Homo sapiens: one gene and its partners. The protein of the gene in region 2 interacts with the protein of the main gene of each other region in a pairwise test. Each region holds a gene or a part of one and is shown on either strand. Other genes may lie near its edges.

Region 1 (3,619 bases), on a different chromosome or scaffold from region 2:
CTAAGCAGTATGCTAAGTGTTTGATCAGCATTATCTCATTTGATCTTTGCTTCAGCCCTTAGTATTTTCATAAACCTCATTTTACATTTGAGAGTAGTAAATCACTAAAACTCTTCTCTGAAATTTTGTCATTTAGGACTTGCTGCTCCCTTTTGTTACGTGACCTGCCTTCTTCTTCTGGAAATACTTCTTTTCTGTAACTCACTCTTATACTCAATCTATAACTTTGGAAGATTGCTGTCATACCTAAAATAAATTTTAAATATATTTTCACCACTAACTTATATGATCCATGCTAAAATGGGCTATCTCACATAATTTTTCAGAAATAGGAGTTTTGGTATAATCTCACTTTGATATTATTTTAGTTCTAATATGGTACTGCTTTAAAAAAAAAACAAAACTTAGAGAAGGCAGGTATTATACATAATCACCTCAGAAGACTGAGGAAAACACAATGAGCTCAGGATCATTTTTCTGAAAAATGTTGATGTGCCAAAGATACTAACTTACCAGCACAACACTGTTTCTTAAGGTTCTTGGAAAACGGGGTAAGAATGAATGAATGCTAGAGTTAAGGAATTACAAAAACATAGAAAGTCTGGTGGTTAAGGTAAAGAATAAGAGTGGCAGCTTGAGGTGTGTGTTTGTTTAGTATTAACTGCATATGAGCTGAGAGAAGGAGCCTGTTGGGGAAGAGAGATTAAAGAGGCAGAGGGATCACTGAAAGAGCAAGGTTACAGAGGAAGCCTCTGTTTTACAAGGTAGCAAGTTCAGAGTAACAGGCCCAACCACCACCCAGGCTGACTTACTATGCCATGAAAATGGCCTAAGTTTGAGAATGTGGGTAATATATAATAGAAGTATCCCTTTTTAAAAATTCTAAATTTTAAAAATATTCAGAACCAGAGATTTTAAGGAATTAGATATATCCCCTATACAGGACTGTGTTCATTCATCTTTGAATTATTAAAATAGTGTTTTGCTTATAGATCAATGAGTGACTGTTAAACCACAAAGAATCCAGAATACAATAACATTTTCATTTATTTTTAAAAGACACTTATACTCACTACAGACTGAAAATATTCAGGAGAGATGCCTTCCAATTCAAGGATTTTATCCTCAAGTTTTTTAATTCTCTGATAAATGTCTCTTGGCACTGGACCACCTAAATACATTAAAAAAAAATCTGAGATACTATTGAATAATTCTTTCTTTTCACAATTTTTATTCTTAAAATACCATGCAAAGACACTTATGCAAAGGAATGGAAAATACTTAAGAAAATAAAAAACAAAAGTAAAACAGAATGAAGTCCTTAGGTCGTATTTTTGTATTATACACTATCGGACATATTGTACTACACTTCCTCTCTCCAAACCCCATTTATGCTTCCTATATTCTAGGAGTTTCATGTTAAATTCATTTTACAAGATATTGAATAGCTTCCATGTAGAACAATTTATATTTCTGATATGCTTTGATAGTTACATGGGAGGACAAAAATGCATAGTGACAAATGACGATAATTCAATGCAGTGGTTGCAATATGTCATATTATTTTCTTCAATTAATATTTCTCCCTACATGCCATATTTTTCCTTTGACCTAAAAGAATGTAAAAAAGGGGCTTTACCATAATTCTAAACTAACAAACTTTCTGAGGAGGGGAAGAGTAAATTATGGCCACTCAAATTTTAAATTTATGATTATATCAAGAATCCTTCTACTTCTCACCCCCTCCACACTGTGGCCTTTCTGGTCCAGACCACTTCCACCTCTCCCTGGATTACTGCAACTCCCAAACTGGTCTCCCTGTTTCTGCCATGCTTCCGTAGAGTGTATTTTCAACACAGGAGCCAGTGATCCTCTAAAAATATAAGTTAGATCACATCATTTCTCTGCTTCCAATACCTGATCATTTCACTGAGGTTAAATACCTTCCAATACCTGATCATTTCACTCAGATTAAATACCAAAGCCCTCACAATGGCCTACAAGGCCATACACAATGTGGATATTCTCCCTATGCCCACATGGTTCCAGCCACTTGATTACTTTTTTTCTGTTATTCAAAGAGGCCAAGCACCCTGTAAGCTTCAGCTGGTTCCCTCTACCGCCATAATCCCAAGTCAATTTCAAGTCTTGGCTCAAAAGTTACCTTATCAGTAACACCTTCTCTGACTATTCTGTTAAAAATACCAGTACTACCACTCCCCTACCCAGCACTCCCTTATCCTCCTTACCTTAATTTTCTCCATTCCATTACTACCACCCAACATTCAGTATATTTTCTTTCTGTATTATTTGTTTCCCCATTCTAATATAAGCTCCAAGAGGACAGAGTTTTATCTGTTTTGTTCATTAGGTAGGGCTGTGCAGCTTGTGCACTGCACAAACCTAGGAAGCATCAGTTCATAAGACTACAATGCATGGCAAAGAGCTGGTGCTTGATATTTACTGACTGAATGAATACATGATTAGCCAATCATTATGCAATTAAAGAATACGGGTAAATTTCTATATCAAAATTGTCAACTTGTTATGTAAAAATTCTAGAAATTTTGAGGATTTTAAGAAATCTTAGGACCTTGGTTGTTCTTGTTCTTAAATAAGTTAACTTGTTCATTTGACTTTGCTTTTGCTGCTCCCTTTACCTACAATGTCCTCTGCCTTACTTCTGTATCTTTCAAGAGCCAGTTCAAGCTTCACTGGGTAACGCAGGCACTGCCGAAACCTCTTCATTCGCATAAAGGCTCCTTGTGCCCCCACCATTCTTCAGTGCTCCTGAGTTTTTTGGGACAGACTCTCACTATACTGTCCAGGCTGGTCTCAAACTCCTGGACTCAAGCTCTGTTCCCCACTCAGCCTCCCAAGGAACTGGGATTATAGGCACACACCACTACACCCATCCTTTCATTACTCCTTTAAAACTCTACTTCACTATTAATCTTTCTCTCATTTGGATTATAAAGTCCTTGAAGCTGGGGACTATGATTATATCATCTCAGTATCCCTTGTGCCTAAAATAGTGCTTGGAGCATAGTAAACATTCAACAGATATTTTTCCAAAAACTTAACTGTTTCATACTATTATTAGAGACTTAACCAGTCAATCCTTTTATACAGTGGCATTTTAAACCCATCCACTTCTGAGGGAAGAGATTAATTCTTAATGCCAGTGTCTTATTACTCTCAAAGACTTACTCATTCTGTTTTCTTCTTCTACCTTCATCTGGCTAGCATAGCTTCAGATAGCTAGTATACTCCAGCTATACTGGATTCAGATATCTCCTGAACCATATTTTGTGTTTTTGTCCTTTTTTGCAAATGGTGTTTCTTCTTTTTGGAATGCTTTGCTCTGGAAAATTCCTACTAATCCTTCAAGGCCTCAAATGTCACTTCATTAGGATGCCATCATCCCTTGACCTACCCTGAGAGAGTCAAACACTAACTTTCTGTCCCTCCGTACATACATCTGCAAAGGTGAAATAAGCAACTGTCCATTCAATAAACATTTGAGCACTTGCTTTGTGCCAGGCACTGTAATAGGTACAAAGAAATGAATATGACAGACATAGTTGCACTCTCACGGACTATCTAGCAGGAGACAGAC
Region 2 (2,607 bases):
ATTGACAGTTAAAGCTTTGTTGTGCTGTTCTTCCCTCCTGTTGTCTCCCTTAGAATGTACTCTTAGTGGGTAGCAAACTAACTTAATAAATAGTGGCCTCTAGGACTAAGATTTAGTAGCAGGAGATAAGCGAGAGTACAGTCTGTAGACTCTCCCATCCACTGCAATGGCACATCAGTGTACCATCTAATTTGGTAGCCCCTGTGATAAGGGCACAGCCTTCTGGTCTTTCCGTACAATGATGAGTACTTTGAATTGCACTTTATTTTGCTGGAGATGGGAGTTCCTAGCATATTAGCAAATTGATGGCTGGCAGCTGGCCTAGATGGTAACTTCTCTCACATTTACGATTTTAGGATGCTTTTGTTAAAATTTTTTCCCTAAAGTCAGACAAACTATCAAATCTCAAACTTTCTATCAGTCAGTCAGTCTATCTTTCTGGAATTAGTTCAGGCAGTCTGGAAACTTCATGGATGCAGGATTCATTCATTCAGTCAACAAATATTTGTTGAACATCAATAGCAAGCCTTATTCTAGGAGCTGGAAATAGAGACAAAATATACAAACAAACCAAATGATGCCATTATAGCTTCATATACTATTTATTAAGTTATTAATATGAACAGATATGCAACATTACAGATGTCTTTCAAAGCCTGTAATAAAATATAGTCCACTATCCAGCCCAGGAGAAAGACAACAAACAGTATCATTCTTATAGTAAGTGTAGCATACGTACTCACAATAGTTCCCTTATTTGGACATCAAAGGGAACAATCAGTCAAGATTCTTTACCTCCATTAGAATTTAACTTTCTTGGATTATAGCTGTTTTAGAGTCAAAAGTCCAACTTAGATTATCCACAGAGATGTGTAGCATCACATGTTGGAGAGGAAGGAGCTACTGTCACCTCCGTGGCAGCCCTTTCTACTGTCTTGCAGTCCTTCTATATCGAAGCCCATCTTGCCTTTTAGGCCAGTAGTGGTCAAATTTGGGTATGGGGAGAAGGCAGGTGGGTCACAGGGAGGTTTTGATTAATTTACAAAGATTGTGTTTCAAAGCTCTAAAAACCCATTTGGTGGTGGCAGTGGCAGTGAAGAGTACACTATATTTCGCCAAGGGGGTCTTCTCATCTCTTGAGTCTTGGCTTTCTCATATCCTTTAAAATTGCTGCAGTTCTCAGTGGGAAAGTGGAGGTGGCAAACTCTAACAGCGATTGGTATGGGGCCATCTGCAGAATGAACTGGACTGGCTACTATGGCTTTTATAACCTGCTTTCCTTTCTTTAGTCTAGACAAGCTTATTTCTTCATCTTTCCACCTACGTCCTGCTAGTTCTAACATAAGATTTAAAAGGACTATGGAAGATAAAACTTCTCACTTTCTAGCTGAATGATGAAAAACAGCAAAAAAAAAAAAAAAAAAAAAAATTCCATTCTTCAATGAACTATACTCAATTTCCTCAGTTGAAAACAAACAAGCGCCAAATGAATTTTAAAGACAAGTGCTGGATAATGCTGATTAACTGGTAGAAGTAGTTCCTGAGTGAAACAGCGTATGTATCAGAATCTAAAATACAAGCAAAACCCGAAATGCTCTGTAATAGGGATTGTAATAGTGATTCTTCAACCCCTTAGTTTCACACTGAAAACTACAAATGTTTTTCAATATCAGGCTATTGATAATAGTCAATTAAATATGGAATCAGAAACCTCAGAAAGTCTTGCCAAGTTTGTGGCAGTTTCAATAGTCTAAAAAGGAAAAAGGAGAAACCAGAAGTTAAAGAGTAAGAGCATTGGAATTTTATTTAACTCTAGGTACCATGGATTTGACATCAGTAGGAAAGACTAATGAATAAGCAGCCATACAACTTTTTTGGTCACTGTGCTTCCCAAGCACCAAAAAATGGAGCTATTTTTCCAATTCAGTTTCATCTTTAATAAGCTAGACAGATCCTGCTGCATTCTTTGTTTCTAGTTTACCAGTACATCATTATGTAGTTTACTGCATGTGTGGAGCAAGTCATTATGTAGTACCAAGTTTACATCATCATAGGACTACAACATGCACATTCTACTTAATGTAGCTCAAGCAACAGGAATACAAGAGAACGGTTATGGGTGGAGACTTGCCTTTGACAAAGTCATGATCACACTAACTATAGGTTTAGAAATCTTATTAGGGAGGTACCTACAGCGGTTCTTCAATTGGTATTAGAACATCACATGCATGCACAAGTGGTATGGTAGAGAATGAAGCGGAAGAAGCCGCTGGATGGAGGACAGAGGGGAAATTAGAGATGGGATGATGCCGTGTATCGGGCAGTTCTCAGCTTTCCACAGTAAGTCTCTGCTCTGTGAGAGAGGCCTGCTGGGCAACACTTTTGTTCTCATGACTGCGAAGTTTGGATACGACATCTAGAAAAGCCAAATCCTGTACTTCCTTGTGTAGACATTCTGGAAGACAAAAAAATAACAGATATGATTCTGTTAGGTTGTTCTAAGTCTATCCAAAACATATACCAAAATGTTTATTTTGACAAGACTAAGCTTATAAAACTAGAAACAATTCTGGAAAAAGACATAGCAGTAGCCTAGCAATGTCTTTC
Region 3 (3,619 bases), on a different chromosome or scaffold from region 2:
CTGTTTGGTCCTGTGTGAGACCACTCATAAGAATAAAAGAAAAAAATATCCCATTCAAGATATGTTAAGTTCTACTCAAGATATGCAAGAAGCTAATGATGGCAAAGAGAACTTAAGGAAAGTTCCACTGAGAAGAAAAAAAATCTAAAACTCCCCCATTAGAGTCATTTTAGGCACCTCTGAAAATTCTGTCATTCACTGTCCACGAATAACAAAACTTCCCAGTTGTATAGTCCTACTTTATGGTTTGTAGTTATAAGAAGTTATAATTTGTTACCTCATTTCATCCTCACAACAACCCTGTGAGGTAGGTATTATTTGATTAAAAAACGGAGGCTAAAAGGTTACTTAATTTATCCAAAGTCACAGAATTTGTAAAGAGTAAAGCTGGGACTCAAACCCAGGTATTCTGATTCCAAGTCCAAGTCTCAATCCCCTATATCACAGAGCAAGAAGTTTGTGGCCACTCTGAACAATAACTAAGAGTTTTCTAATCCAAGATGAAAACAGCTCATTAACAGAAGTTTGGGCTAAAGCAAGGACAAATGAAAGGCAAGACTGTTACAAAGGGCTCAACTAGTTCAATTCTCAGAGCAAGGGAAGTATTGGTCCAAGGGTCAAACCTACAACCAGTACATCACAGGTAAGATAAATAACTCCAAATATGTGGGGCACAGACAAGGTTAAAGGGATGATGACTGAAGTAATATATCCCCTATAAACCCTTCCCCCACTTTCCATTCCTAAAAGGATCTCTACATATCCTTTTTTCTAAGAGAAAACAAATTTTCTGTGGTCATGTGGTTCTGGAACAAAAGAATCCTGTTGTATAGGGCACCTGAGGAGAGTAAAGGAAAAGAGAAGGGAAAGAGGAATCAATAAGCTTGCAGTTTTTATTCCATTTCCATTTTATCAGATATCACCTCTAAGGCTCTGAATTTCCCAGAGTCATATTATCATTTTTTTCATAATCTCATTCAAAGTAGAGGAAAAAAACTGGAAGTAGGAGATCTGGGCAAAGGACTCCTTGGACTACCTATTTTAGCCCATTCTAATAGAACTGGCTATTTCTAAACACAGCCTTCCCTGATTTGGTAACTCTCTTTAGAGAATACCTCTTAAAAGACACAAGTGAAGAAACACAAATCAAATATAATGTACTTACATCAGTATAAGAGGTGCTAGGCTCTTCATCATCACTGCTGACCAGATCAATGTATTCAAGAACAGGTCGTAATGGTCCTTCCTATAAACAATCAAGCAAATTTAGAAGTCATTAACAGTTATTCAAACCAAATTAGCATTTAAACCTACAGTGTTTTTTTTGGTTGGGACTGGCAAGAATTACTCTGAAGAGGGAGCTTTGTGGGTAGCAGAAAATAACCAGAACAAAAGCAGCAGAGGAAAATATTCAAAATATATAAATGTAAAATGATGACAAGACCTAAAAGGAAGCACCTACACCCCTGTAGAATATTAGGGCCATGTCAATTACTTGGGAAAGGAAAATTAATATAAGAACAGTGCTACAAAGACACAAATATTATAATCCAGTGCTTTACACCTAGAATTGGTATCAAAAGTCTGTTAATATATCCAAGTTCAAAAATGAATTGACTTATAGCTCAGCTTCATCATCCACCACTGCAGAGTCAAGCATCAAACCTGAATTCTTTTCCATTCTTTCTTTCCATCCATGCCAATTTCTTCATCAACCAGGCCTTGAATGTCAGGCTTAAAAGCCTAGATTTTATTCAATAGGCAAAAGAAAATAAAAAATAATAATAAGACAATAACATGAGAACTGTGCTTCAAGATCAATCACATAGAGGAGTATGGAGAGCAGGGAAAGCAAGATAATCAGTATAGGCACATGACAATGCAGAACTAATGGTGGTGATGGCAAGAAGAGTATGGTAGTGGATATACAAGAGAATACAAGTAAAATGGAAAACTAAAAGAGATTGATTATTAGGCCAGGTGTGGTGGCTCATGTCTGTAATCCCACCACTTTGGGAGGCCAAGGTGGGGGATCACCTGAGGTTAGAACCATGCCTGGCTAATTTGTGTACTTTTAGTACAGATGGGGTTTTACCATGTTGGCCAGGCTGGAGTTCGAGACCAGCCTGACCAACATGGTAAAACTCCATCTCTACTAAAAATGTACAAATTAGCCAGGCATGGTGGTGCGTGCCTGTAGTCCCAGCTACTCAGGAGGCTGAGGCTGGAGAATTGCTTGAACCTGGGAGGCAGCAGTTGCAGTGAGCCAAGATCACGCCACTGCACTCCAGCCCGGGCAACAGAGCAAGACTATCCCAATAATAATAATAATAATAATAATAAATATATAAATAAAAATAAATTTAAAAGATTATTTAAAAAACAAAACAAGGAGTCAGTGATCTCTAAGTTTTTAACCTCAGGTGACTATAAGAATAGTAATGCCAATAGTATAACTTTGGAAAGCAGAAACAGAAAGCTGACATTCCTATGGGCTGAAGTAACAGTGGTACACAGGGTGTATCTAGCAGACAGCTGGAAATGCAGGCCTGTAATCTGGGAAGTATGAACATACCTGGAAATAAAGACTTGAGAGTTGCTCCCCTAGAAGACTATTAAACTCTAGAACTAAACTGAACTATCATATTGCCTCAATAAAAAGCTGTCAGTGTTAAATGTGGCCAGAAACACGGCAACAATAAAATGCCACTGAATGTGGCAACCAGACATTTTTAAATGTCTTTGAGAGAGCAACTTTCAAGAAAGTAGTGAGCACAGAAGCCAGGCTCTAAAACACTAGAGAATGCAGTAGAAAAGGCCATATTCTTTTGAGAAATCCAGTATGTTGGAAACAAAAGAAAGGAACACAGAAGAAATAATAGCTGAGGAAAGGATTTTGTAGGATGTAGAAAGTTGACTGCTGGAGACAGAAGCTGAGATCTAGGTAATGATCTTCCCTAGAATAGGCATCCAGTCTCAAAGATAGCTTCTTTCTCCCCTAGGCTATGACTTCTGCTCAACCAAGAAACTGCCATCTTTTGGGTACTAATTCAGATACCAAGATAAAACAAGAGGGCAAAACTGGGCAGGGATCTGTAGCAAAGGAATTGAGATTTTTGCTCAAACTATAAACACGGAAGTAAAAATTAAAGAAACAGAGGAAGCAATACTCTCCAATATATGGTAAACAGAGCTGAATCACCTACTTTAAAATCTACATCTGGTATGAAGAATGTAGGCCATGCACGGTGGCTCACACCTGTAATTCCAGCACCTTGGGAGGCAGAGGTGGGTAGATGACTTGAGGTCAGGAGTTCAAGACCAGCCTGGCCAACATGGTGAAACCCTGTCTCCACTAAAAATAGGAATAGGGTGTAGTGGCGGGCACCTGTAGTCCCAGCTACCCAGGAGGCTGAGGCAGATGAATTGCTTGAACCCAGGAGGCAGAGGCTGCAGTGAGCTGAGATGGTGCCACTGCACTCCAGCCTGGGCAACAGAGCAAGACTCTGTCACAAAAAAAAAAAAAAAAAAAAAAAAAAGACTGAAAATTGTATGTTCGATCCAAGAAGAAAAATTAAAATGATAGCTTTTCCCATTGATATAATCATCTTACTTTGCT

The links. Proteins that work in one complex are often made in the same cells at the same time.
Region 1: the proteins of RAP1GDS1 (region 2) and MBIP interact in binary tests that used the Homo sapiens proteins (3 or more experiments, as listed by UniProt).
Region 3: the proteins of RAP1GDS1 (region 2) and ZNF451 interact in a two-hybrid assay, tested with the Homo sapiens proteins (one large-scale study listed by BioGRID and IntAct).

Annotation. Positions count from the first base shown.
Region 1 is NC_000014.9:36,307,019-36,310,637, forward strand, and holds part of MBIP (MAP3K12-binding inhibitory protein 1), read right to left. Parts: intron 1,172-3,619; coding exon 1,074-1,171; intron 1-1,073. UniProt on the Homo sapiens protein: Inhibits the MAP3K12 activity to induce the activation of the JNK/SAPK pathway. Component of the ATAC complex, a complex with histone acetyltransferase activity on histones H3 and H4.
Region 2 is NC_000004.12:98,441,838-98,444,444, reverse strand, and holds the end of RAP1GDS1 (rap1 GTPase-GDP dissociation stimulator 1), read right to left. Parts: intron 2,456-2,607; coding exon 2,328-2,455; 3' UTR 587-2,327; downstream 1-586. UniProt on the Homo sapiens protein: Acts as a GEF (guanine nucleotide exchange factor) for the Rho family of small GTP-binding proteins (G proteins) that stimulates the dissociation of GDP to enable subsequent binding of GTP.
Region 3 is NC_000006.12:57,096,688-57,100,306, reverse strand, and holds part of ZNF451 (E3 SUMO-protein ligase ZNF451), read right to left. Parts: intron 1,247-3,619; coding exon 1,166-1,246; intron 1-1,165. UniProt on the Homo sapiens protein: E3 SUMO-protein ligase; has a preference for SUMO2 and SUMO3 and facilitates UBE2I/UBC9-mediated sumoylation of target proteins. Plays a role in protein SUMO2 modification in response to stress caused by DNA damage and by proteasome inhibitors (in vitro).